Regions from separate parts of the Homo sapiens genome. Here all the other regions are reported to be linked to region 3. Evidence: microRNA targets listed by miRTarBase, many of them from high-throughput screens and not tested one by one. Region 3 holds a microRNA gene; each other region holds the end of a gene's coding sequence.
Evidence for each region. Region 3 holds the annotated microRNA hsa-miR-6800-3p (CACCUCUCCUGGCAUCGCCCC, at 5,243-5,263, opposite strand). A microRNA usually pairs through its seed, bases 2 to 8, with sites in the 3' UTR of a target mRNA and lowers its output. Matches are read on the target gene's strand: a 7mer-m8 pairs with bases 2 to 8, a 7mer-A1 pairs with bases 2 to 7 and ends in A, and an 8mer does both.

Region 1: the mRNA of MAPKBP1 is a reported target of hsa-miR-6800-3p. Seed matches in the 3' UTR shown: 8mer at 5,409-5,416 and 7mer-m8 at 5,278-5,284.
Region 2: miRTarBase lists PSMA5 as a target of hsa-miR-6800-3p. Seed matches in the 3' UTR shown: 7mer-m8 at 4,047-4,053 and 7mer-A1 at 3,854-3,860.

Annotation. Positions count from the first base shown.
Region 1 is chr15:41,823,024-41,831,120 of GRCh38, reverse strand. MAPKBP1 (mitogen-activated protein kinase binding protein 1) reads right to left here. Exons shown (of 31, transcript NM_014994.3): 28 at 7,899-8,097; 29 at 7,060-7,674; 30 at 6,552-6,637; 31 at 3,266-5,912. The coding sequence ends at 5,685. It overlaps JMJD7-PLA2G4B (JMJD7-PLA2G4B readthrough), which reads right to left and starts at 3,029. Exons shown (of 25, transcript NM_005090.4): 1 at 2,933-3,029. The coding sequence starts at 2,996. JMJD7 (jumonji domain containing 7) reads right to left here and starts at 3,029. Exons shown (of 8, transcript NM_001114632.2): 1 at 2,933-3,029. The coding sequence starts at 2,996. RefSeq lists a silencer at 3,052-3,141 and enhancers at 2,876-3,170, 3,202-3,431, 4,477-5,359.
Region 2 is chr1:109,396,212-109,406,439 of GRCh38, forward strand. PSMA5 (proteasome 20S subunit alpha 5) reads right to left here. Exons shown (of 9, transcript NM_002790.4): 9 at 2,831-5,879. The coding sequence ends at 5,802. It overlaps SORT1 (sortilin 1), which reads right to left and starts at 1,707. Exons shown (of 20, transcript NM_002959.7): 1 at 1,376-1,707. The coding sequence starts at 1,681. RefSeq lists silencers at 1,484-1,583, 1,594-1,663, 1,704-1,833 and an enhancer at 1,860-2,841.
Region 3 is chr19:49,827,111-49,837,338 of GRCh38, reverse strand. It overlaps MIR6800 (microRNA 6800), which reads right to left and starts at 5,321; the gene lies at 5,240-5,321. MED25 (mediator complex subunit 25) reads right to left here. Exons shown (of 18, transcript NM_030973.4): 4 at 8,792-8,890; 5 at 8,249-8,369; 6 at 7,391-7,553; 7 at 7,121-7,251; 8 at 6,741-6,828; 9 at 6,452-6,645; 10 at 5,878-6,006; 11 at 5,318-5,403; 12 at 5,182-5,239; 13 at 4,924-5,031; 14 at 2,162-2,353; 15 at 1,734-1,805; 16 at 1,394-1,612; 17 at 933-1,113; 1 more. The coding sequence ends at 395. RefSeq lists enhancers at 1,779-2,279, 2,280-2,780.

The DNA of each region.
Region 1 (8,097 bases), not on the chromosome of region 3:
CCTATTGGTCCATGGGCAGCCATGGGTGGGCCGGAAAAAGCACCAAAAGTTCCCATTCCGGTCCATGGAACCGGCAGCCCAGCCCCCAGGCTTCAGGCCTTCCCTGGCTTGAAGGTCGGGCTTCACCGGGACCCGCCACCTTCCACCCAGGAACCTGTCTGCCTCTTGCCACCATTCACGGCACCCAAGCTGTTTGTGCCAAGGGGGTGCCTGCAGGCCAGCACTGAGCTGCCCTCAGCCCCTCTTGGCCTCCCTCCCATGCTCGTTGGCACCCAAAGGCCAGAGGGGGCCAAGGAGGCAGGGGGCTGGTGTGTCAGCACTGCAATAGCACCCAGGCTCGGCCTCAACTTTGCTCCATGATCTGATCAGGTGCTGACAGTGGGGAGAAGCCAGACAGCAGGATCAGGCACTTCCAAGCCTGCGGCAGCAGGAAGGGGCCTTCCTGGGTCCCCAAAAGTGCAGACATGCCTGGGTCCACAGCTGCAGCTTGGGAGGCTGCAGCTGCATCTAGGAGGGTGGGGCTCCTGCCTGCTCCTAGCTCCCAAGAGCACAGGGGTGCCTGAGTTGCAGTCCTGGCTTGGGTGGCTGTAATTGCGCCTAGGGAGCTCCCACTCCACCAACTTGGAAGGGGTGGGGCTCCCACTTGTCCCCAGTTCCCGCCAGCTCTGTGGAACATGTGGCCCCAGCTGCCTCTCCTCTTCACGTTTTCCCCACAGCGGCGGCGGGCAAGGTGCATATGGCATGGCAGCTCTGACCACCCCAAACAAATGAGCCTAGTAGTCCTGTGTTCCGGAAACAGTGAAGAAGCCAGTTTGCAGGAGCAGGGTCTTTGTGCACATGTGTGAGTATTTTTGTACTCACAAGTGCAAGTCCCTACAAGTCCCAGTTGCACCTTTGGCAGGGTGCTCGCAGGCTTCTGGGATGTGGCAGGGAGCGAGGTTCAGGCTGCAGCAGAGGGTCTGGGCTGAGGAGCAGGTCCTGCCCAGCCATGTGAGGGTGGGGGTGGTGCAGTCGGCTGCCTCGGGGATGCAGGGAACAGGGGACTCACTACCACCACTGCTGCTCCCAGAGCCACTTCTGCTGCCCGACTTGTGCCTCCCCACTGCAGCCAGCATGATGACAGCATCTGCTTCCAACTGCCCGCCACTGTCATCAAAACTGCTGGACTCAAACAATCCTCTTGCCTCAGGAGGTGGGACTACAGGCACATGCCACCACACGATGGTGTCTCACTATGTTGCCCACGCTGGTCTTGAACTCCTGGCCTCAAGAGATGCCTCCCACCTTGGTCTCCTGAAGTGCTAGGATTACAGGCGTGAGTACTGCACACAGCCTGGGATTCTGAAAATACATGGAAACTGCCATTTTTTCACCCTTTGGACTTCTGCAATTAGGGATTTGTTTTACTTGCTCACCATTTCCTTTAGAGAATGGCTGCTTTCCTCTCCTGGGGCTTCCAAGTGAGAAAATTTCAAAAGGGATCCAAACAATTGCTTTGACCCCATAACTCTGCTAAGAATTTAACAAGGCCGGGAGCAGTGGCTTATGTGTTCCATGGCGTTCCAAAACTTTGGAATGCTGAGGTGGAAGGATTGTTTGAGGAATCTGAGACCAGCCTTGTCTCTACTAAAATTCAAAAAAATTAGCCAGGCGTGGTGGCGCATGCCTGTAGTCTCAGCTACTCCCAGGTGCTGAAGCAGGAGGATCTCTTGAACCTGGGAGGTCGAGGTGCAGCGAGCTATGATCGTGCCACTGCACTCCAGCCTGTGTGACAGAGTAAGACCCTGTCTCAAAAAATATAAAGTATTTAACCAACAAACATACTCACACATGCGCAGAAGACGCTGCTCCTGCAGACTGGCTTCTTCACTGTTTCCTAAACACATCAGGCATACTCCCAAAGAGGGCTTTGCCTGCACTTACCTTCTAACCTACTTCTTCTACTCTACAATGTACTCATTCAGTACACCTGTGGTTGATTGTCCACGTTCTCACTTAGAATGTAACAGGACATAGACTGTAAAAGACAGATTTGTTTTGTTCAGTGATGTATCTCAAACACACTGAACAGAGCCTGGCACACAGAGATGCTGAATAAGTATTTGTTAAATCAATCCTCAAAGTATTCGTTGCAGCATTATTGAAAACAACGGATTGGACATGACCTAAATGACTAAGTGAATACAGCACTAGCACACAGACGTGAAAAAGACTGAGGTAGAGGAATGTGAAATGATCTCCAAGATACACGGTGCAGAAGAGTGTGTTTAGCAGGCTACTATTTGTACAAAAAAAGGGTAAAAAGTCGTGTGTGCACGGATATAAACAATCTTTCTGTAAGAATGCAAACTGGGGCTGGGAGGAAACCTTGCTTCATTTACATTGCGTACCACTGTATATTACATACCCATCACATACACATGAGCCTGTGTTGCTGTTCAGTGGTAAGAAATCATTTAAAAATAGAAAAAAGAAGGAAGGAGGGAAGAGAGAAAGAAAGAAAAGGAATAAAAACCAAGCAGGGGAAGAGCCAGGGACCATTTGGTCAGCCTGCAATCCTCCCAAAGTGCGACAAGGGAGTTGAGGTCGGAGGTGGGGCGCGTGGGGGAGGAATCCGACCACCAGCTGTGTGCCTTCGATGAGCTTTCAACAAGGGTAACAGCAAGCTGCTCAAGACTGTAGGAAACACAGGGCTTCGCCGCGACCACGGTCAAGACGGCACCGGGCCTTGGGAACAACGTGAACAGAATCACCCAGGAAGCCGCGGGAGCGCGCGAACACGGGAGAAGGGAAGCAGGTTGCCACAGAAGAGCAACCCGAGCGGGGCCTCAGGGCAGTCGCACACACGAGGTTCCGAGCCCCCGGTGTCAGCGGCATCCCAGGGCCCCTCCCGTGTTCGGAAATCGCCGCAGCCTGTGGGAGAGCCACTCACCCCTTGCAGCGGCCGGGAATTCTCGTAACTCGCTCCGCACGGCTTCCAAAGCCGCCTCCGCCATGGCTGCGTCAGCGCCGGCCGAGACCCCGCCTTTCCCCGACGCCCCGCCGCAGGCCACACCCCAAGCACTCGCCCCGCCCTCCCCAGAGTCCCCGCCGCAGGCCACACCCCCAGACCCTCGCCCCGCCCTTCCAGAGGCACCCGCCGCAGGCCACACCCCCAGCACCCCGCCCCGTCCTGCCCCTGGACACACACCGGGTTCTGCCACCGAAGCGGTGGAGCGACTGGCAGCGCCCGCTTCGGCCTGCCCCACTGGCCGGCATCCCAGGGTTAACAAACAATTGTGTTTATTGACAAGTTCATACATCAGTACAAACGGGCACGTTAAAAACAGCGCCCCCGCCCCATGCAGCCGAGGATGAGGCAGGAAGCGCCGCGACCTGCACAAAGTATAAAAGTTATAAATAAGGGGCTTTCAAAACAAGGCGGGGGCAAATCTGGAGTGGGGCGGCGGTTGCCGGTGGCCTCAGACATGCAGAAGGGGACGGGGCGCCGGCCGGGCCACGAGGCCCCCCACCCACATGGGGCAGAGGGCAGGAAAAGGGCGGCCACATTCTCACAAACTTCTGGCGAAGGGTAGCTCCCTCCTCGTGAAGGACCTGGCCCAGAGGGCGAACCTGAGTCCCACCTGCGGTGGGCGCGGCTGGTGTGGGAAGTCGGGGCACAGCAGGCACGGGCCCGCCCCCGCCGCCGCGGGAGTTCCAGGGCCATGCGGGTGGCGATGCTAGAGGAGTGGGGAAGGGCCAGGTTTGGAGCAGCTCAAGCGCACTCAGGCTGATGCCCCGGAGCTGGGAACCTTTTGTAACCCTTTTTCTTTTTTTTTTTTGAGATGGCGTGTAGCTTTGTCACCTAGGTTGGAGTGCAATGGCGCGATCTCGGCTCACTGCAACCTCCACCTCCACCTCCAGGGTTCAAGCGATTCTCCTGCCTAAACCTCCCGAGTAGCTGGGATTACAGGCGCCCACCACCACGCCCAGCTAATTTTTTTATTTTTAGTAGACAGGGTTTCACCATGTTGGCCAGGCTGATCTCGAACTCCTAACCTCAGGTGATCCACCCGCCTCGGCCTCCCAAAGTGCTGGGATTACAGGCTTGAGCCACCACACCTGGCCCAGAACCCATTTCTTTATAAGCCTCTGCCTATGGCGCAGCAGGGCGGGTGAAGGGGCTCTCGTGGCCTGAAGCTGTGGTAAAGCTGCTCTGACTTACCTGCAGCAGAGGGGAGCAGTAGGGCCCAGAAAAACCTTTCCTCAACTCTTCAACTGCCTCACGACATGGTCCCACTCTACCTCCTAGGGTCCCCTATCTCCTTTCCCTCACCCCTAATTACTGCCCTTTTACATTCTAACTTATCCCCTCACCTCTGCCACTTACCTGTCCCATCTACCACTTTTCTAGTGTCTCCTTTGGCCCCAGCACCTCCCTCCTCTCAAACTCCAGTATCCAGCACACCCGTGGGTGCCCAGCACTGCCTTTGAGGAGGCTCCTTCTACCTAAACCAGGTGTCCTATGGGCTATCTCGTATCAGCTAGGCTGTGGACACCAAGAATCCAGAATCTGGGTTCACTTAGTGTACTGCACCCCTTTTCTGCTCCCTGATAGGTGTTCCACATAAGCCAGGGTGGTGAAGCTGAGGCAGGATGTGAGGAAACCAGGCACACAGCAGCCAGCCAGATACTCTAGCAACCAACACTCAACAGCGTGCTGTGCAGGTAGGTGTGTGTGTGTACATGTGTGCACGTGCATGCGTGTGATCTCATCTGTGGCTGAGGTCCTCAGGAGGTAGGCCAGCGCCCCGTAAACGAGGGATGTTCCAACACAGGCTTCTGACTAAGCATCATTCAGGATGCAGGGAGAAGGTGGCCTCTGGGCTCCAGCAGCCGGCTGGGGTCCAGGGTGGAGGACAGGGAAGAACAAGGGGCTGAGGAAAGGAGGCCAGAGCTTCATGTTTGCCCAGGTGAGGGCTTACTGTCCTGCAGCAACATCCCACAGCTGGCTCAAGTTCTGGCCAGGAGAGTAAGGGGTCACAGGGAAATACAATGCTGGGCCCCTCTTGGAGGGAGAATGGGAGTGGAATGTGCGGGCTCAGGTCCAAATACCAACTCAAGTCTCCTGATGGCTGGGGACACCCTGGAGGGCCAGATGGCTCTGCCTTTCTGAGCTCCAGGTATTGGGGAAAACCACCCTGCTCTGGCAGCCACGGGAGTGCAGCTGGTGTGAGAGGGGAAGTGCAGGTAGAGGTGAAGGCCCACAGTTGGCTGACGGGCACTGAATACCACATCACCTCTCACCTCGACCCCAGAGTACCCTGTGTATGCTCCACCACAGGGAGCTAATCCCTGCAGTAATTTCAAATGGCTTCTAAGAGAGGGCCAGCCCTTCCCAGATTCCTAGATGGGGCAGGCTGCCCTCCTACCTCTCACAGCACCAAGATGACAAAGACCCAAGACCTGTCCCTGCCACTGGAGGGGCTGTGGAGGCAGGAGTTCCAAGGAAGTGAGGCAACAGTCAGGGAAATAAATTAATAAATACAGGCCCCCCACGAGGAGCGGCTGGGAAGGCTGCTTTGCCTCTGAACACTGCTCCCTGCTTTCCACTCCAAGCAGCCCCGCAGGTTTTGGTGAGGGGCAGAGGGGCTGCAGTTTGGAATCGCTGGAGCATTCATTCACTTGGGACAGGCTTCCAGAACTCAGAGTTTGCGTTCCATACGCCGTTCCACGGCTCGAAGCAACAGTTCTGAGTATTGCTCCAGCAGGGCCTGTGTCTGCTCGGCTCCCACAGCCCCAGGGCTGCTGCCTGGGCTGGACAGCACTGCCCCAGCCACAGCTTCCAGCTCCTGTCGCACTGAAGAGAAGGTGTCTCTGAGGAGCTGGGCAATCCGACTTTGCTCTGCTGAGGGCATCTTGCAGCCAGCCACCTGAAATAGCACCCCCAGAAGTGAGGTGGAGGAGCCTGTCAACAGACATATAAAAGGGAGGGGCCCCACCTGGGTCCAGCCTGCCTCAGAAGGGACTAGCTGGGAACTCTACCCGCCAAGATCAGCATGTATGGCCAGGGAACATGGGATGCAGGCAGACTCTGGGGGTGACGCCCAAGGAGGAACCCATTGGATTGCAGAACCGTCTACATCTTATAAGCAACTCCTTATGACAACTCCGGCAGAATCTGCTTTCTCTTTCAAAGTTTGGGCCTTCTTGGACTGTCCCCTATGTCTAAGGGGGCCAAATAATTCATGGATATGAAAAAGGATGCCATTAATAATTACACTGGGACAACGACATAAACTGGGATTGTCCTGAGCCAACTAGGAGGTGTGGTCTCTTCAGGCCTCACCTCCTGAGGGAAGTCTCCAGCTCTTAACCAGAAATGACCGCAGGTGCCCGGTACAAGAGGCTAGCCTGGCCTCTAACCCCCTCACCTATGCTGCCCAAGATGTTCTTGAGTGTGCCATCCTGTCAGCACAAGAGGCTTAGCATACTGTTCTGGACATGGTTATCCGAAACACCCAGCACTACTGACGTGCCCGCCTTCCTGCCGGGGGGCACCTAACACCCACCGAGTGGTAGAGCCGCACTGCCTGGCGCACGCTGCCGCGGAGCTCTGCCACCAGCTGCTCACACTGCTCCAGGCTCACCGCTGGCTCTGAAAGAGACGGATACAGCTCAGTGAGGCCCAGCATGTAGCCCTTTCAGGCCTCCGCACCCAAGACACTCAGAACAGGAGAGACCTAGCCCTCAGCATTGCACCCCCCACTTGCCCTCAGTCCCTTCCTCTTGGCTTCTCTTCCAACGGCCTCCCCAACACCACACAAACAAGGTCCAGAGGAGACGGCCAGCCCCAAGTTCAGAAGCCACTGAATGGGCAAGTGAGTCACAAGGAAATCATGAAGGTTAGCAGGAGGGTCTCACCATCAGGGGTGTGACTTACGGACCTGCGACAGGAGCAGACAGGACAAGAAACACCAGAAGCTGTACCCACAGAAATGGGATGGAGCCAGACAGCGGCCAACAGAGAGGGGAGAGTAAGGATGGGGCAGGAGATGAGAGCTGGGGAGCTGTGCACACCTGAGTCCTGGCTCAGGGCTGCCCCTGGCTTGGTGCATTCCATGGGGTTGGGAGTCTTCTCAGGGGGTGGGGGCTGCAAGTTTTCAGGGCCTTGGAAGAGGCTGCTGACTGGCAGTTGCTGGGCACAGGGGCTGCTGGGCCCAGGATGAGCCTGGCACTCTGTCCTAGGCTTGGGAGTGGTGCCCTCCCCCAAACAGGCCCATCTCTCAGTTGTACTGTGAGCTTTTCCTAGGCCCACCGGGAAGCCAGGCTTTTCTGCCTCGCCAGGGGCCCGGCCTTTGGTGACAGGAGAGAATGCAGCCAGGGTAGGACGGTCAGGCAGTGGTTTGGGGATGTCCAGGACCAGGTGAGCCCGGCTGGGCAGGGCCAGCTTGCTGAGTGGTGAGACTCGGATGGGGGCATGAGCTTGAGGTTCAGCCACCAGGCCCAGGTTCTCCCCAACAGAGATACTGCGGGATATCTTGGCCATGGAACTGGTGGTGGGGTTCTGATAGGAGTGAGGCCGAGACGGACGGCCATCAGCTGGGGGCAGGGAGCCCAGACCATCCTGAGCTTCGATCTCCCGAGACAGCAGTGCGCCTGGTGAAGGGGCCTGCAGACTGGCCTCATGTCTTTCTGCAAAGGAGACAGAGGTATACACAGGTCAGGTGTTGAGGAAGGCATCCCAGGTGCCAACACCCAATCCCGAAGAGCTGCTGTTCCCCTCCACATGCCCATTAAGGGACACCTAGTGGCCAGCACAGTGGCACATCAGGGCCACACCAGGCCCTCCCTCCTCCAGCATGTACATGTGTTCCATACACCCTGCACCCTGGCACTGAACCCATCAGGCTTCTCACCCTGTGGCACCAGACTGTGCACAGACTGGGCCTTCTGGAGTCCAGAAAAGGGGCTGGCTGTGGCCACTCTCTTGGGAGCCCAGCTGCTGTCAGGGTTGAGACGGCATCGTGGCAACAGCACAGAGGCTGCCTGCTGGGGGCTGGGGTTGCCAGAGGACGGTTCCACCTCCGGGGGTGCTCCAGGGGGATTGGCACCATT
Region 2 (10,228 bases), not on the chromosome of region 3:
TCTAAATCCAGGAGTAGCAGCAGACCTAAAGTTAGGTCAACCAGCGAGAGAAGAATTTGAAATATGGAGCAAGAATGCTGTGACCAGCTAGCTCAAGGAAGGAAGTGGTCCAGTATAAATTAAGCATTAGTGTTGTAAAGCCTTTCTCAATCCCCCACTGTGAGAAGGAAGTCTATTCGATTTTTTTTTCTCATCAAGTAGGAAGACTTCCCAGTACTCATTCTACCCAACCTGTCTCACCCTCCAGCACTAGCTTGGCTACCTTTACACAGCTGCTGCTCGGGATACACTAAGCACAATTATTCCTGAATATTTGTGTCTTGTGTCCTCAGATCAGAGAATTCTATTACAGGTAACAAGTATGGTCCAGATAACCAGGCAGTCCAAAGGGAGACTGAGGCTTGGCTGACGCTGAAAAACGGTTACAGAAGGACAAGTGCTGGCACAGAGCCTTGGCCACCCATCTCTGCCCCCAAGTGCAATTCATTTTCTTTGAAAGAGGAAAACAGGCAAGGGAGAAAATATATAGAATTGAAAATACATTATGCAAATGTGGCTAGCAAGGATTAAATTGTTAATTTTAGAGAAATAGGAGAAAGATGCCCAAGTTGTGCTGAAGCAAGGAACCAGGACTTTCTTAATAATTAGTTTTGTCAGTCCAGTAGTGTGCAAAGGTTGAGCTGCTTGTCCCCAGGGACAGAAATCCCATAATTTTGAAAGTCTTTTGACCAAGAGCTGGCTCAAAGCAGAATATGTGCAATGCGTTTCTTAACTATTGAAAATCTTGTCACCACGGGATATAGACATGCTAGTCAGACTTCCGTACCATGACAGAAGGTCAAATCTGAAGCAGTAAAAGAGATCACATAAATATTGCCATCTCATTTCCAAGCTAGTCCCCTTAACTATTAAAACACGGTGACCAGATCGCTGCTTCGGGCCTCCTGAACTCCCGCCTCTCCCACCCGGAAAGTACTGACCCAGAGAGGACACACCTTTGCTTCTGCGCAGCCCAACTTCTGCAAGCGCTCAAGAGTTAATTACTCCTTCACCTTCCTGGGGCCTAACAGCGTTACTGGGTCCTGATTATTTATACAGACGAAAAACGATGTTCAAGAGATTTTGACAACTTAAAAAAAAAAAAAAGAATGCGGTGGAAGTCTAAGATTGCCTCCCCTATGACAAAACACAGCCCCGCCGGCCGCCCGGGCCCGACTCCGCCCGCCCGCCCGCCGCAGTTTCGGGGCTGCGGCCCGGGGGACGCGGGCGCGGCAGGGCTGGGGTCTCCTCCGGGAGTCGCGGGGCGCACGGGCCGGGAGGGGCACGCGGGCGGCACCTCGCACCCGAGCGGCTCCCGGGCCCGGCGCCCGCTCACCTGGTGCGTGTTGTTGGCCAGCTTGGCGACGAAGTCCCGGACCCGGCCGCACTCCTCGTCCTCGCCCGGCGCGCTGCGACGCCAACGGCCGCCGCGGGGAAACGCGCCCCCGGCTGCGGCCGCCCGCAGCCCCCAGCTCACCCCGATGGGGCCAGACCAGCGCGGCAGCGGCGCAGCGGGCGGCGGCGGCGCGTCCAGCCGGTCCTGGCTGAGGGTCGACGGCGGCAGCAGCTGCAGGAGGAGGAGGAGGCCGAGGCCATGGGGCCAGCGCGAGAGGCCGTCCGCAGCTCCCCAGGGCCGCTCCATCGCCGCCGAATGCCGCCGACGCCGACACCTGCCGCCCGGCGCGCCCGCCCACCCCCGCCGGCGCGCGCCACACCCCCGAGCCGAGCGCGGCGCTCCTTGGATACGCGCGGCCGGGCCTCTCCGCCCCATAGGCTGGCCGCCTGTCCCTCTTCCCCGGCCCACTCCTCATTGGCTCGCGTCGCCTCCGGCTTCGGGGGTCCTGGATTCGGATGCTAAGATGCGGGACTGATTGGCTGGAACGGGGCAGAGACTGCTGAGGTCAACCCCGCCTCGCCCGGCGTCTCCCGGGCCCGGCTTGTGGAGTTCACGTAGGAGCTTCTCATACCTTCCCGCCGAGCCCCGGGCTCCTGGCGTCGCGACCCCTTGCCGCACCTCTAGCGCCCTCAAGTTGGGGCTGGGTTACGTCCCTCCTGTTCCCCAGAGACACTCCTAAAATTCCTTCGGTGAGGCAGAGCCTGGAAAAACCTACCCAGGAAATCCCTGAGCTTGCTCAGCTGGAAAAGGGGGCTCCATCATGAACCGGGGCTTCGGGTTTTTATAAACCCCGCTCACTGGAGCGCCCATTGTCTGCTAAGCAGCTGCCTTGCTGCAAGAAGGTGAATGCGAACTGATGTGGGCCACATCCTACGGAGACAGACATCAGGACATCCGTGACTCCTGCAAGCCTGAAGAATAGTCTTTCCATACGTTTGGCCTCTCTCACCTTCCTCTTCTGAGGGGAGGTAGGCCAAAGGCGGAATTACTTACAGGTTTTCCAGGACTTCGAATGTAGCTTAGGCATTAGGGGCAGGTAAAAGAGGGGCAAGAGAATGATCCAATGCCTACTGTACACATGATCATTTCCTAGATGCACATTTATTTTACCAAAGTGCCTTAACTCTGCAGTGAGAGCTTCGGACAAGTTTGGTTCCAGTATGTGATGTCCTCTAAATTAGCACCCCGATCCACCTCTAATGAATAAAATAAAACCCCTACGCTGTTCCCTTTACCGCAGAAGCTGCACACACAACTTCTACAACACGTAGCACAGGTAAAACCAGTTCTGAATCCTTAAGCTTACTGACTCCATCCCTTCAGAAAGCTAGAAATTGTTCAGTAGAAAAGGTAGCAAATAGAAAGATACAAAATATGCAAGTCATTACACTCAAAGCAAGTAAAGATTACTTTTAATTATAAACTGGCCATAAACCCAAATGAGGATATAGTCATTGTAGAGCAAAATGATACAATGCACCCAACCCGATATTTACATTAAAATATTTCCAGTCACATTAACTTTCAAACAAAAAGACTTAACGAATTTACAAATTTTTCCAAGACGTGAGAAGTGAAAAATGTTTTTGAATGCCATCTGAGCAGGATAGTAAAATCACTAGAATAGTCTTTTTAAGTTCTCAGTTACTGGACTGAAAAGATAAAGCTGATGAAAATTGGTGAACAATTTGTTCCTTTCCATAACTACTATCAGATTAATTTAAAAAAGATTATTTTTAAATCTATGCCAACTATGGGAGTAGATCACAAGACAGTCAGTTCCAGTAGCATGTGATTAGGTGGGGGGAGGAAAGGGGGTTATAAAGGAATATTTCTTTGTTTGGGTGACACAAAGATGAATGGTCTATTGTCTTACTGTCTGAAAAGAAAAAACAACTCAACAGTGCCACCTCCTGGAGAAATTACCAAATACACTTTTAAACGCTATTAAATTTGTTCCAATTATCTGTACCTTCACTTTTTAGTATGTTGCTTTTAGTTATCACAGGCTTACAGTACTTATATATTTCCTTCTTCAAACTGTATCAGCTTCTGGGACATGGTAACTTGCATATGGCACTGAGAAAATGTTTGAGTGAATATATTTATTATTTCACTTTTTAAATTGGAAACCCTAGGAACTATATTTCATTTTTGTCTAATGAGATTGACATTAAATATAAAAGTGGCACTGTCAGTTCTCCTTTGTGAGATACTGGACATAAGATTTCACCTTATTTGCAGGACTAAAGTAAATTTATCTTATTACTAAAAACCGTACCTTTCTCCAGGAAACATTCTATAGCAGAAAGATAACATAAAGCAATTACACATCATGAAACCATTGCTGTTCGTAGTAAGATCACTTCTTTAACCTAAGAAAGCTTGTTTTAATATTCTACAAAAAAATCAAAGTTCTACCTCTTTGAAGAATGCCAATTATAGAAGGTACGAAATTTACTGTTTTACCAGGTAAAACACAAATATGCTGCCCAGCCAGTGGGAGGGAAAACAACTTAAGCTGAGGCGAACGGACATAGGCTAAGAGCTACTCCTTAGTATTTGGGCATTTTTCCCCCTATGAAATGCATGTGATTCAGAGACACAACTCACCTCTCCCAAAAGCAACATGGGCTTTATCCATTTCTGCATTAACCTAGAGTTAAAAAGGAATATTGTTTATTGTTTGGCTCTCCCCACTAGAAGTTTCACAGGAGCACAGATCATATCTACCATTTGAACAGCTCTCTGCCTGATGGCTAATACATTTCTTGGCATATAGTAGGTAGGTGCTCAATAAATTTGTTACAGGAATAAATGAGATAGGATTTTCAAGGGTATTTTCTATTAGGATTTAATAAAACAAAGTGATCTTTAGAGAAACAAATCTCCCCATCAACATGCTATACTTAATAAGTGTTAAAATCACTAGAAGTCTCTGGAACATTCAGTAACAATATACTCTAATTCTCTGCTTTCCTTATGTGTTATTCTAGGGCAAAATCCCTTTCTTCCAAATGTTTCCTATCATTGCAGTTTCCAAATGTATATAAACATGTTGTTTTTTGTTGAACTACAGTATGGATTTAGTATGAATTCAGCCTATCCAAATAGTCATAATTTATTAACATATAGTACAACTTCCTACACATCAATATACCCAGAGCCCAGCAAATAATTATGGGGTCCCTGTTAGTGAATTAAATCAATTCTGCATCATCCACATATGGATTAGCCATGTTGTGGACAGTGCAAGTACTTTTCAAATCTCCAGATTTCCCTATTACTCAAGAGCTGGTGATCTGAAACAAGAAAATTTGAGCTGTTCAAGTCCCAACAGCTTAATTTTGTGTGTCCATGGGCACACAGCATTAGATTCTTCATCTGTTAAGTAGTGATACTGATACCATCTTCCCGTGGTAATTTTTGAGGCTGAGATAGAATGATTCTTTAAACAATCTCCACCAATCATATGATGGCAGCTCTAATGGGGAAAGTTCATCATTCATTCCAAAGTCTAATGTAAACTGCTTCTGAATTTTACAATTCTCTTACTGATATAGAGATTTGTAATTGATTGCCAGTGAGGCCAAGGTCATTAATTTAATTCTTAGTCCTTCACTTCGTAAACAAGGAAATCTCTTTCCAAATTGTCTATCAAGACCCAAGAACTGGTACAACACTGTTGATGGCTGATTCCAACCCATCAATGTTTTGAGGAGGACCTCAAAACATGTTCTTCTGATAGTCAATTAGTAGCATCTCCTTATAAGAAAAGCAGCAAAAATACACGTTTGCTCCAGAAATTATAGGGCCGAAATGGATTTACAGTGCTGTTAACATCTATTAACCACTGGGAAGAGCTGGACTAGTTCATTTATCAACACCATGGGATTAATGGATATAGTTGATTCTGTTATAGAGCATCACTAAAACAGTTTTAGAACAGACATCTTCATAGAATAGGGATATTAATAACACTGTCCTTTTGGCCCACTAACATTTGCATTTCAAACAAAAGACTGTATTACAATGGCTGGGCACAGTGGCTCTCGCCTATAATCCTAGCACTTCAGGAGGCAGAGGCGGGAAGATCACTTGAACCCAGGAGTTTGAAACCAGCCTGGGCAATATAGTGAGACCTCATCTCTTAAAAAAAAAAAAAAAAAAAAGACTATTAGAAGAGAACAGTCTATTAACAAATATTTTAAAATTTTCTTTATTTCAGAACTGCCTTTATGTACAGACATCATTTAAAAAATGCACATACAATGGAGATTTTCCAAGGAACAGGAGCTGGAAATAAAATTTAAGGACATTATTAGAACTGAAATTGTCCCAGAGAAGTTCTGAGGATCAGGATTCCTTAAATGTCCTTGATAACCTCTTCAAGTTCTTCCTTTGTGAACATGTGGAAATTCTGGCCAGGCTGCACTGTGGCTAGCTGGAAAGAAAACAGAAGGGTTAATAAGCTGGGCTGAGTTACCCTGCTGATGGCCCTACCATGGTCAGGAGAAGCTGTGTTGGTGATGCAGCTATTCATTAGGAACTAAGGGATCTGCTGTCCCAAGGATATCCTTTCCAGGCAGCAGGTCCCTAAAATAGCTCTCTGGCTCCAAAATAAAAATGCTTATTGACCAAATTTTCTATTTTAAGGTTAACTCACCACATCATACTTAACCAAATGCCTGGCATCATTGTCACTTCTTGAAGTCACTTCAACAGGGATCACAAAAGCAGCAGCAAAGTACATGGAGTCAGTACTTTTTTCTGTTAAAGACTCCTTTAGAAATATATTTGAAGTATATTTAAATACTTAAAAGTTGAGCTTGTGTGTGTGACTTGAGGTTACTTGGCCACTCTGTGCCTCTATTTCTTCATCTGTACAATGAGGACAATAAGAATAGCTAATTCATAGAGTAGTTGTGAGGATTAAATGTTAATATATATAAAGTGCTTAGACCATTATTGCCTACAACAAATAATCATTAACTATTGTCAGGTATTTTCTCTAAAATTGTTTATGTGGCAAAACTTAACAAAAAAGTTTTTTTTGTTTGTTTTTGGTTTTGTTTTGAGATGGAGTTTCGCTCTTGTTGTTCAGGCTGGAGTGCAATGGCGTGATCTAGGCTCACCGCAACCTCCGCCTCCCGGGTTCAAGCGATTCTCCTGCCTCAGCCTCTCGAGTAGCTGGGATTACAGACATGCGCCACCACACCCGGCTAATTTTGTATTTTTAGTAGAGACGGCGATTCTCCATGTTGGTCAGGCTGGTCTCGAACTCCCAACCTCAGGTGATCTGCCCACCTCAGCTTCCCAAAGTGCTAGGATTACAGATGTGAGCTACTGCACCTGGCCTGTTACGTTTTTTTAAAAGAACTGGCCAAGAAAAGATTTCATTAACACTGGCATAGGAAACCAGTTGTGACTGCTGAAGATATCAGTAATAACTGGAAATCCAGATTATATTTACATTTAAAAGCAACAACAACAATAAAAAACTAGGGTCAGAAGATGGTTAATTTCAAATTTAACTATCATGACTAGGTTTTCCATTCTCTCTGTTGATCATGTCCCACAGTTTTGGGCAATACTGAGCAATAGGTGCCACTTCACATTTGCCTCAAAAGATTTGTGTTTTACATGTCATTTCCTCATAGTGTCTTTTTTCTTCAATTTTTAAAATTAAACACATGGCTGGAAACAGTAGCTCATGCTTGTAACCCCAGCACTTTGGGAGACTGAGGCGGGAGGATCACTTGAGCCCGAGAGTCAAAAACCAGCCTGGACAACACAGGGAGACCCCGTGTCTACCAAAAAAAAAAAACCCCAAAAACTAGCAGGGGGTGTAGCAAACGCCTGTGTCCCACGTACTCAGGAGGCTGAGGTGGGAGAATTGCTTAACCCTGGGAGGTTGTGGCTGCAGTGAGTTGTGATCATCCCACTGCACTCCAGCCTGGGTGACAGAAAGAGGCTCTGTCTAAAACAATAAATTAATTAATAATAATTTTTTAAAATTAAATATAGTAGGGCATTTTAAAGTAATTTTCAGTACTAATATTTAATGTAACTTGAAAGTTGCTAGAGAGAATCAGCATAATCCAGTTATATGATGTTTAGTATCCTCTGCCTCATCTATAAGTAAAATTCAGAAAGACTGCTGCAAGTCTTAAGACATCTGATATCTGGGAACAGACTTAAAAAAAAAGTTCTCCTCTCAAAGCTTGTAGTCTCCTCTAGATTCTCCTAAAAGATATATCTCTAATTACATGAAATGTCAGAAAAGTCCCAAATATATCTGCAAAATATAGGTAAACAATTAGTTTACCATGTAGACCATGAGTTCCATTCCAAGGATATTTAAACATACAAATATTATTACTGCTTCTCTTGGCCAGGCGTGGTAGCCTGTAATTCCTTCAATTATGGCACTTTGGGAGGCTGGGGCAGGCAGATCACTTGAGGTCAGGAGTTCGAGACCAGCCTGGTGAACATGGCAAAACCCTGTCTCTACTAAAAATACAATAATTAGTCGGGCATGGTGGCACACGCCTGTAGGCCCAGCTGAGGCACAAGAATTGCTCGAACATGGGATGTGGAGGTTGCAGTGAGCTGAGATCGCACCACTGCACTTAGCCCAGGCAACAAAGTGAGATCCTGTCTCAAATAAATAAATAAATAAATAAATAAAAATGTTACTACTGCTTCTCTTAAGATATATCTTTACTTGATGATCAATGACATGAGGACAGAGAAATATAAGAGCAATAATCTAAAGAGTGAGGGCCTAAAGAATTTCACTCATGACTCAGGCTAGCCTTCTCAAAACATTACAGGGGCTAAAAAGCAGAAACTGGGAAAACTCTGAGTGGAACAGTCCTACAGAAGAACTGGAACGCAAATCAATACTATTAATAATAGCGTCTGAGCCAAGGACTGCCTTCAGGAAGTTGCTCATCACTAGATAAGTAAAAATAATCCCTTACATTTGCATAATAATAAATGTATTTGCATAATATGAAAGATACTTTTCTATTTATTATCTCACTTTCAAAAAACATCTCTATGAGGCAGGTAGAACAGATATTTTCTTTCAATTTATTTCACCAATAATTAATTACTAAGCACCTGTGTATTAGTTACATGTACTTGTGACTAAGGATCCAAAGATGAAGAAAGTCTTTATTTACTAAGTGCTAGATGCCAAATGTGTTCAATGTCAGGTAAGTGTTGTAATAGAACTAAGAATATGTTTAAGAGTGATCTGGAGGAGCCCAGGAAGGCTTCAGGGAGAAGCAACTTTTGAGTTGTGTATTAAAGCATGGCAAGAATGGGTCAGACAGTCAAAGACAGGAAGGGCAAACAATGTGCAAATGCACAGAACCACAAAAGAACACGACATATTTGCAAAACTGAAAGTAATTCTGTATGGCTAGACCACAGCTTGCACATGGAATATGACGTGAAAAGGAGAGGGAGTAGGGGGTCAGAGCTCATGGGAGACAGTACGTTAAAGTGGTTAAAAGTATAAGACCTAAGACCAGACCTGGATTCAAATCCTGACTCTACCATTTACCTGTTGGCCCTACCGTCTCAAAGCCAGTTTCCTCTTCTGTAAAATAAGATTTTCGGAATAGGAATATCTATCTCATAGAAGTGTTGTGAAGATTAAGAGATGTAATTGCATGTAAAATGCTTAGCAAAGTCTCTAATAGATTAAACAAATGACTTAAGAAGTAGTGAATTATGCCATGAAAAGAATTTTGGAATTTATCTCACAGACAATAGAAGTCAGAAAAGGTTTTTTTTTTTTTTTTTTTTGAGACAGAGTCTCGCTCTGGAGTGCAGTGGCGTGATTCCAGCTCACTGCAACCTCCGCCTCCTGGGTTCAAGCAATTCTCATGCCTCAGCCTCCCAAGTACCTGGGATTACAGGCACATGTCACCGTGCTTAGCTAATTTCTTGTATTTTTATTAGAGACAGGGGTTTCACCATATTGGCCTGGCTGGTCTTGAACTCCTGGCCTCAAGTGATCCACCCATCTTGGCTTACCAAAGTGCTGGGATTACAGGTGTGAGCCACATGTCCAGCCAGAAAATATTTTTTAAGTGGAGAACCATTAAGATTAGATATAGCTTAGAAAATCCACTATAGTAGCACAATGAGGAAAAAATGGACTGAAATGGAGGAGGGCAAGATTAATTAGGAAGCCTCTGAAAATATACAAGGTAGGGGAAAAATGGGAACCTGAACAAAAGGCGGCACTGGAAGTAGGGATGGAGAAGGGACATGGATTTGGGAGTTATTTATAAGGGAGCAAAGAAATGACTGAGTAAAAGGGAAGGAAAGTCAAAGTCTTCCAGGTTTCTCGTGTGAATGACAAGTACCCTGGGGGTGTCATCAACCAAGATTAGAAATATGGGAAGATGAAATGGTTTTTAGGAAAGATAATGATTTTAATTTTAGAACTGTCAAATCTGAGGTGAATCCTTCAAAAAAGTCAAATGATAGTTCCAAAGAGTGACCATGAAATCTGACAAATAAGAGTTATCTTAGCAAGGAGCAGTCTCATGGAAATAATAAAAGCTGAAACAAATAGTAGTGATTGAGGAGTAAATGAGAGGTGAAGCAGTGGAGATAATACAGGTTCTGTTTGGAGGAGACTTGGCAATAAAGGTGAAAAAATAGGATGGATGAGATAGCACTCAGCAATGAAATGTAACAGAATTGATGCAACACAGGTGAATCTCAAAATCATGCCAAGTGAAAGAAGTATAGTCCCTATAATCACCT
Region 3 (10,228 bases):
TATTCAAAGTTTCTGTTGTCCTCTGCACCCAGATCACCCCTCACCTCCTTCCCTCCCAGCCTGACGGCTGATTCTCTTTCAAGACTCTGAGGAGCTGGGGCTGGGTCAGATGCCTCTTCCAGGCTCCCATGGTGCCCCTGCCACCTCCATGAGAGCTTGAGTCCTGAGCGCTGCCTGCCTGTCCCTGCATCTCCCACGAATCAGGTTGCACCAGACTGCCTGTGACTCACCACGGAGGCCCCAGCGTCATTCACCCAGGGCCCCAGGGATGTCTGCTGAAGTGAGAACAAGGACAGAGATGCCCCCTGGGGTTTCCTCCTGCCCAGTCCTGAGGGATGTCAGTGACGGGAGCCGGGGCGTGTGTTAAAAAGGAACTTTATTGGGTGTTGGGGATTCAGATGAGATCCATGAGGATGTCGTCCTCCATGACGCTGGGCTGCAGGCCCGGCTGGGGGACCGGGCCCCGGGGACCCCCGCTCAGCAGCATCTGACCTGAGGGGCAGTGGGGAAGGGACTGCATCTCCCAGTAGGCCCTTGGGCCCAGGAGGGCCCAGAGGCACTAAGTTTTCTAGGCAGCCCTTGGGGGACCCAACAGAAGCACCTTCTGGCCCCATCTAGTTACAAATATGCTGTTTCCCATGAGCCTTTGGGGGCCCTTCTCCAAAACTACTTCTCTGGCCCTAAGACCACATTTCCCAGCAATCCCAGGAGCACACACAGGAGGATCATGGGAAACGCTCTTAACCCACTAGGTCCTTGGACCCATGGGCTGTACTTTCCCGGAGCCCTCAGAGCTCCGCAAAGGCCATGGGGGAACCCTCATTCTTGGATCCTATGTCTTTACTTCCCAGGAGCACTCGGTCTTGGTGCTCTAGCCCAGGAGCTGCTGGGACACTCAGTCCAGACCTCTGCCCTCCCCCGGGTCCCCTTACCTGGCAGTGGAGCCCGAGGGGGAAGTTGTGCGGGCCAGGACTGGGCAGGTGGTGGATGCAGGAGTGGGGGCCCCAACTGGGGCTGCCCCAGGCCCTGGTGCGGCGGAGGCAGCAGCGCAGGAGCCCCTGGTGGCTGGAGGTGGTGGAGGGAGGCCTGGGGTGGGGGCACCCCAGTCTGCGGCTGGGAGAACACAGAGAGTGGCTCAGAGGCTCCTGGTAGAGACTCCCCACCTCTCAACACAGACACTGCTCAGAGATGGAATCAGCTAGTGGTGAGGGGAAGTTTTTCTTCAAAGGTGGGGGATGGACGGAGAGGAGGCGGTCTGCCTTCTGCCTAAAGCCCTGGGCGGGTCCCCATTCACACCCACTGACCACAGTCAACCTCCCTCCTCCCAGACAACAGGACCAGAACCACCAGGGCCAGGATCTGGAACTCTCGCTACCCCACCCCAACATCTCACCGGTGGTGGGTTGAGGAGGAGGCTTCGCAGCTGAGGGTTGGCCCCAGGGTTCTGGGGCCGAAGGATGGGTCCAGGAGGGGGTGGGCCAGAAGCTGCTCCAGGAGGGCCTTGAGGGGCACCTGGCGGGGGCTGGGCAGTACCTTGGGGCTGGGGCTGCCCCGTGGCCCCAGAGGCCCCTACGGTACCCTGAGGCTGGGGCTGCGGTGGGCGGAGCTGGAGCTGGTGGGAAGAGACACAGGGGTGAGGGAGATGGGCAGGGCCTCACGCCCCTTCTGCAGGCACAGAGCGCAGCCTTGGGGCCTCCCCAACCCAGCCCCGACCCCGCCAGCCCTGTCCTCACCAGATTCTGTGAGGGCCTGGCTTGGTCCTCCAGAATGGGCCCCAGCCCTGGGGGTGCCTGCTGTCCCCCCATCTGCACGGGGAGAGAGGGGCAGGTCAGTAACTGAGGGTGGTGGCATCCTGAATCTGAGGCGGGAGGGCCTGTGCCCTGAGGGGAACTAGTAAGGAGATGGGGACATTCTCTTTGGGGGTGAGTGGTCTGGGAGGGATGCCGTACACTCCAAGGTCTCCAGGAGGAAGCTGTGTCAGGGCTTTGATGTGGATGCTGAAAAAGGAGAGAGACTGCAAGAAAATCTGAGTGGGACTTAGCTTGGAGGCACCACATATTGGGAGAAGGGTGGGCATCTTGGTCCTGGAGACCCCAGGGGGCCATGTGGGGCCCGGGCAGGAGGGGGTCGGAGTGCTGGTTTGGGGACTGTCAACACTCACTCCTCGCTGCTGCTGCTCCAGCTTCTGCTGCTGGACCTGCTTGTGGTTGGTGATGACCTGCCGGATGCCGTTGACGAAGCCGCTCTGGTCGTAGGGGATGAGGCCCATGAAGATCTTCTTCTTGGACGAGTACAGGAGCATGAGCACGCGCACCTCACAGGGCGCCGTGTGGGGGAAGTGCACGCAGCCCGCCTGGGTGGACAACAGCTCTTCAGAACCATTCAGGCCCTGAAAGAGGCAGCCCTGACCCCCTCCCCATTCCAGAAGGCTCTAGAGGCCCCACAGGCAAGGTGAGGTGAGGTTTCTGCTATAGAAGGTTAAGGAGAACAGGTGTGCTATGGGTTGCTCTGGAGACAGAAACTGAGGCGCTCAGGGCAAGCTAGGGTTCCAGCTGCCCACTGAGAGGGAAAGCGGAGAGAAAGTGCTGGAGCCCAGCTCTTCAACCTTCAGCCACCACCTGCTCCTCATGGACCCAGTTTCTTGGGCATAAAATGCCACGGCGGCCTCCTCAGAGGGCGGCTGAGGGTCACGGCCGGGAGAGCGGCCTAGATGCACAGCGTGGTACCCACAGGCCTGTGATCAACGGTGGGTCGGACCCCGGGTATCCAAGAGATCCTCCAGCCCTCAGCACCGGCCAGTGTACACCACGGGGAGTGCTCCCACATCACAGGGTCGCTGTGACTATGCGATGTCTGATCCACAGCAAGAGCCCTGCCTGAGGCTCAGCCCACAGGAAGCACCCAGGAAACATCACTGGTCATCAGGGGGGTAACACATGGAGCATTCAGGGCAGGGGCTCCTGAGGGAGGCGAGGCTGACCTTGGCCAAGTGAATTGACTTCTCTGAGCCTCGGTTTCCTGCCTGAGACAGACCCTGCTAGCTGCCTATTCCATATCCAAGTGTCCTCCTCCCCTGCATTCCCAATGCTGTCTGGGGCTGTAACATGTCCCAGCCCCAGACAGTCACGGATACCTGCTCCCAGCAGCCTCCCATCAACTAGGGGCTGCCCAGTGGCCTAGGTCCGGGATAGGAGGTGAAAGGAATGCCTGCTCTGGAATCTGAGAAAGTTTCTGCTGTCTTGAAGAAAGGGAAACACACAGCCCCCTTCCCCTCCTTCATGAAAGCACACAGGATGCGTGGAGCCATGAGAGCTACCTTGTGACTATAAAGGAGAGGCCAAGAGAACCACAGGGCCCTGTCCCTGATGTCACAGACCTATGAAACCAATCCCAATAGCTGGCCCCCTCTAGATGTCCTGTCCTGTGCAAAATATAAATGCCTGCTCCTACAACGCCTGCCCTCTCAGAACCCAGCTGCCACAGTGTGGCCACGTGGACAGGCCATGTGCAGACACTGGGATGGCCGGTCCTAGCCAAGCCCCAGCCAACAGCCAGGGCTGTGTGAGGAGCTGTTTTGAACATCCAGCCCAGTAAAGGTTTCAGATGACCAGAGTCTCAGCTGCCATCTGATGGCAACCCCGTGAGAGTCGCCAAGCGAGATGGCCCACTGAGCCCAGGTGACCCACAGAATCATAAGAGAACATTTTTTCCGAGTGCCCCCAATTATCTATGTGTTTGGGAAACTACGTGATTTGCAGCCGGAAGTACTAACTCTCAGGAATGCCTTCTTCACAAGGTTCTGTGAGGGTCTCGTGAGGTGATCCCCCTAAGGTTCTCTTTCCTGCAGGAGTGCCTGGTGCACGGAAGTAACTGATCTGCTCCTTCCCCGAGTTACAAAGTGTGAACTGTGACTCCCAGAAAGCTATGCTGAGGCTGGGCGCGGTGGCTCACACCGGTAATCCTAGCACTTTGGGAGGCCGAGGCAGGCAGATCACTTGAGGTCAGAAGTTCGAGACCAACCTGGCCAACATGGTGAAACCCTGTCTCTACTAAAAAATACAGAAATTAGCTGGGCATAGTGGCACATGCCTGTAATCCCAGCTACTTGGGAGGCTGAGGCAGGAGAATCGCTTGAACCCAGGAGACGGAAGTTGCTGTGAGCCAAGATTGCACCACTGCACTCCAGCCTGGCTGACAACAGTGAAACTCTGTCTCAAAAAACAAAACCAGAAAGCTAAGCTGAGGTTCCAGTCCCCAGCACCTGTGAAGGTGACTCTATCTGGAAAGAGGGTCTTTGCAATTGTAGTAAGATGAGGTCAGGAAAATGGGGCCTAATCCAAAATTACTGATGTCCTTATAAGCACAGACACAAAGATACAGAGAGAATGCCATGTGGAGACACACACAGAGGGAAGACAGCTGCGGGATGGAGGAAGACCCTGGAGCGATGCCACCTGAAGCCTGGGGTTACCGGCCGGAAGAGGCAACGAAGAGGCCTTCCCTCCAGCCTCTAGAGAGAGCGTGGCCCTGCTGACACCCTGACCTTGGGCTTCTGGCCTCCAGAACTGGGATAGAACACGTTTCTGTTGTTTTAAGCCCCTCTGCTTGTGGTAATGTGTTACCACAGCCACAGGAAATGAACACATCCCATAAAGCCATGCCAGAATCAACAGCTTCCTCCTAACTGATCCTGTCACATCCAGCTCACATTTTTAATGTGGAATATCCCTCAAATCTGGTGCATACGATGATTATAATAAAAGTCACGGCTCTAGAAGAAAGGCGAGGAACCTAAGGGCATGAAGTGCACCCAACCATCAAAAACGGCTTCCGTGGGCCCAGGCACTCTGGGATTCCCGTCAAAGGTCAGCAGAAAGCAGGACAAGAGTCAACACCCCTCGGCCCCCCATGCCCTGGACTCACGAAGCCGTTGCCCATGATGCGGTAGAGGCCTTTGAGAGACTCCAGGTCCTTGTTGGTGAAATGGAACTGGACCATCCTTGAGTTCCGGAACAAAGGGCCCAGGGTGGTCTGCGGGAGACACAGAAGTCGGCTGGCATGCTGGTGTGGGCAAGTGAGGCGGGGACATGAGGCAGGGAGTGGGGGTGGGGCAGGGAACAGGAAAGAGACAGCAGGGTGAGGACTGCCCGGCAGCAGGGCTGGCCCTCCACCGCCACTCACCAGCAGCTGCTGGGGGATGAGCTGCATGATCAGCTTCTGGGGCCACTGCTCCGTCTTCCTGGGGGCGATGCCAGGAGAGGTGTGAGGAGGGGGCCAGCCCCAGCCCCACCACACCCCGCCCCTGACTGTCACCTACAGGTTCTCGCCATGATTCACGTAGACCTGGCAGGGCAGTGACCGCGTCAGCTTGGTGTTGGCATCCACTGAGGCAGGTTTGGGTTTCTGAGGGGGAAAAAAGAGCATGTCAGTAAAAAGGGCCATAAGCCTCAGTCCCCTTGAGCCCTCATGTCCTACCCTGGTAGCCCCAAAGCTCAGGATGTTCCCCAGTTTAAGTCCCATGAGCCCCAGGCCCCTCCTCCAGACCAGCAAGCCTTCAGTTCCTCAAATGTTACAGCTACGTGCCCGGCCCCTAAATCCCACCATCCACTGTGCCCCAGATGATACATCGCCTGGGCTCTTCTCTGGGCCCCAAATCCTGGGCTTTTCTGGGTTCTTTGCATGGGGACTCTCCTCTGTACCGCAAGTCCCACCACTCCATGGGGCTCCTGGCCTCGCCCCGCATCCCACAGGTCCAGCGCAACGAATGCCTCCAAACCCAGCACTGCAGACCCCACGCATCTGGCCCCATGAGTCCTACATGCCCAGCCCCACGGCCCCAGGAGTCCCAAGTGCCCAATGGACCCTCAGGCCCCTCACCTCTTGCCACTCCAGGACCCCGCTCCAGGCCAGAAGCTTATTGGAGACTGACTGCTGCCCACCGAGGGCTGGGGCTCCCAGCTGGGCTGGGGAAGGGCCGCTCACCCCTCCTGGGGCCACAGTGCCTGCCTGCCAGAGGGGAGGAAGGAGGGCCATGAGAATGGGGAAGGCCGGGAGCCTCCGGGGGCCATCCTGTGAGGGCAAACCAGGAAGGAGGAAAGATCCCTTCTTCTGCCCCTCCATCCCCAGAACAGCACTTGGCCAGCCGCAGGACCCCAAATGCTTGGACCTTGCAGGATTCGAGGACTCGTAAGCTGTGCGATGCCCTGGACTCCCAGACCCAGGGATTCCTTGGGTTTCTCGGAACAGCCCTGACCCTCCTGGAGCCATGAGCCTCCCCACTCTGTCCCCAGACCCTCATCTCAGGCATCTGCAGCACACACACCACGAGCCCCCAAAGCCCCAGAACCACGAGAGCCACATCCCCCTGGAAGGCAAATGACTCATCCTCTAACTGTCCTAGCTGTGGACAGCAGGAGGAAGGAGCAGGGGCAGGAGGCGTGCAGGCACCTACCATGGACGGTGCCCCGGGCTGTGCCGTGGGAGCCAGGCCGGAGCCAGGGGCCACAGTGGAGACCAGACTGGGCTGGGAAGCAGGTGGTGGCTTGGGGGCGCCAGGGGGTCCTGGGGGTAGTTGGGGAGCTGGGGCCTGGCTGAAGGGGGGACCCACTCCGGGAGCAGCTTGTTGGAGAGGGGTGATGGGCGAGACTGTGGGAGAGACCAAGGGAAGAAGTGGGGAACAAGTGTGTGGAGAGAGGCCTGCCTGGCCCCTGCCCGCCCTTCATCCTCACTCCAGGACTCACAGCGAGGGCCCAGCCCAGCCTTCTGGTTCTTGGCAGCCTCCACTGCATTCTGCGCGGCCACCTGAGCTGCACTCAGGTTCCCGGGAACCTGTGGGTAGAAGGGAAGAAGGGAAGGGACTGGTGAGGACCATGGCCCCCCAGTCCTGGTATCCCACGAGGTCACACCACCCATGGCCCCATGAGGCACCAGCTGGGATAGCTTAGCTCACAACACCCATCACACAGCACATGAGCTTCCATGGCCCCAAGAGTCCCACCTTCCCAATGTCCCATGGGACTCCCATCATCCCACAAGCTCCAACATGCAACTAGATTTCTCCCCAGGGGCCAGGGCTCCAGCAAGTCCCCAGAAGCATGTCCCTTCCCGGAAATATCCATACCTGGTACTGCGGGGGGACGGGGGGCAGAGGCTGCTGGGGGGCTGCTGAGAGAGTGGCACCTGAGGGTGCGGCGGGAGGCAGGGGGACTGGCTGCTTTGACTGGAGGGGGCCTGGGGCTGAGCCACCCCCAACTGAGAGCAGGAGGGATGGCCAACCCCAGAGAGAAGGGATTCAAGATGCAGAGAAAGGAGAGAAATCCAAAATCCAAGTCAGAGGGAGCTGGGGAAACACGTCGAGCCCCCATCCCCGCGCACGGTGCCCAGGCCTCACCAGGCAGCACGAGTCCCCGAACCAGCACCATGTGCCTCGGGTCCTGGCTCACATCTGTCGGAGGCTGCAGCGGCTCCAGCAAGGCCGGGGGGGCTGCCTTCTCAAACAGAAGCCGAAGCGCAGGCAGCTTCCGGGGAGACACAATGGAGAAGTGGATCCCCCGCTGTAGGAGAGGGGCCGAGCAGTCATGACGGGCCCCCTCCATAAGGGTGTTGGGGCCGGCCCCCAACCTACCACAACTGCTGTGTGGCTGGACGGCACCAGCCCTACAACCACAATTCCCATTGGGCTTTGAGGCAGGAGACCCTGAAACCAGGTATCACCTGCCCCGGGAGACTCTGGGTTCTAGTTTTGTCAGTAAGACTAAGTGGGCCAGGTGTGGAGGCTCACGTCTGTAATCCCAGGATTTTGTGAGACCGAGTCAGGCAGATCACATGAGGCCAGGAGTTTGAGAGCAGTCTGGCCAACATGGTGAAACCTCATCTCTACTAAAGATACAAAAATCAGCTGGGCGTGGTGGCGGGCGTCTATAATCCCAGCTACTCGGGAGGCTGAAACATGAGAATTGCTTGAACCCTGGAGGCAGAGGCTGCAGTGGGCCAAGATCACACCACTGCACTCCAGCCTGGGTAACAGAGCCAGACTGTTTCGAAAAGAGAGTAAGCAAAGCTGGTCACCAGTCTGTGACTATTCTGTGTCTGAGTCCAGGCCCCCAGTGCCTCCCCGCTTAGACCCAAGAGTCCAGGCCCCCAGTGCCTCCTCCCTCAGACCCAGGAGTCCAGGCCCTCAGTGCCTCCTGCCTCAGACCCAAGACTCCGGGCCCCCAGACCCTCGTCCCTCAGACCCTGGAGTCCTCACCTCCCCAATCTGCTGCACAAGATTCTCAGTTGTGCATCCAGAGTACGTGGTGCTCTCAACAGCAGGCAACAAGTATGGGGGTGAGTTGCAGATGAGGAGGCAGACCCGGTGCGTCTGGCCACTACCAGGAAAGAGAGAAGACATGGAGCCAGCAGCAACAGAGGCCCTGAGAAGGAACCCAGACCCAGCACCAGCGGAGATGCACATATTCCGCCTCACATGGAATCAGAAGCAACGCCCCTACTTTACAGCTGAGAACACTGAGGCTCCAAGAGGTTCTGGGATGTGCTCTACGTCACCCAGCAGGCAGGGCAGGCAGGAGTGACACCCAGAGTTGGCACTGCTTCCTGATGGGGATGCTGAGACCGGGCACTGGCCAGGCGTCCCCCAAGGACACACCTGCAGCCTCCTGGCTCAGCGTGCTTGGGGACACAGAGCCCATGCCCTACAGGGTGAGGCTGGAGGTAGAACCACTCGACAGGCAAAGTGGTTCCAGGCCAGGCAGAGAGAGACCGGCCCGGCCTGGGTGGAGGGGGCACTCACATCTGCTCGCGCATCTTCTTGAAGTCATCAAACAGCTGCAAGGCTGTGCTGAGTCCTTCCGCGATGAGGCTGCAGCTCTCACCACCCCCGCCCATGAACCTGCAGGGGCAGAGCGGTCAGCCCCCAGGGTTGCCATCATCCCCATCCCCAGGCTATGCTTGAAGAGCCTGCTCCCATGCTGTCCCCCACTCTATCCTGGGCTATGCACCTTGGGATGACGGGGACCCTGCTGAGTTCCCTACCCAATCCCTGGTGCTAGCACAGCACCAGTCCCAGACAGGACAGGGGACATTTGCTGTCTGTGTTTTTTTTTTTTTTTGAGATGGAGTCTCGCTCTGTCGCCCAGGCTGGAATGCAGTGGCATGATCTCAGTTCACTGCAAGCTCCGCTTCCTGGGTTCATGCCATTCTCCTGCCTCAGTCTCCCGAGTAGCTGGGACTACAGGTGCCTGCCACCACACCTGGCTAATTTTTTGTATTTTTAGTAGAGACGGGATTTCACCATGTTAGCCAGGATGGTCTCCATCTCCTGACCTCATGATCCACTTGCCTCAGCCTCCCAAAGTGCTGGGATTGCAGGAGTGAGCCACCACACCCGGCCGACATTTGTTGTCTTTAATCATGAGGACTGGGAGGGAATGGGAAAGGGCTGGGGACCCCAAGCCTAGGATCCTGTGCTGACTCCAACCCTGGAGTGACTGACTCCATGCCCAGCCTCCTGCTGTCCCCTCCCCTCTCTGGGCTGTCTGCTCCAAATCAGTCCTGGCCCCACTTCACCTTCCCAGCCAGAGACGGGGGCCTCCTCTGTCCTCCTAGTCTTATGGGTTCAAGTGTGCCCCCTTCAAAAAGACAGGTTGAGGTCCTAAGCCCCAGTACCTCAGAAGGTGACCTAATTTGGAAAGATCTTTACACAGGTAATCGAGTTAAATTGCGGGCCCTAATCCACTATGGCTGGTGTCTGTGAAAAGGAGAAACGTGGACACGGACACACACACAGAGGGAAGACACAAGGACACAGAGAGACACAGGGAGAGGCCATGTGAGGACGGGTGATGCAGCCTCAGCAGGCACCAGGAAAGGCAGAAGGGCCCTTCCCCTGTAAGATTTCAGAGACAGCCTGGCCCTACCACCTGGATTTTGGACTTCCAGCCTCCAGAACCCTGAGACATCAATTTCCATTCTTCTGGCCAGTTTCTCATACTTTGCTACGGCAGCCTGGGAAACTAACACACACAGACTCTCGTTTCTCCTCCGCCTGATCTGCAGTCGCGTCGCAGCATCCGTCCCACATGGGTTGTGGCCCGGGGATGGCCTCTCCTCAAGGGCAGCTGTGGTTGCCACCATTATTCCGGTCACGTGGTCGTGAGAGGCTGACCTTTGCTGCAGGGGACGTGTGTGGAGACCGAGCACCCCTCTGAGGGTCTTGAGGGCCCTGTCC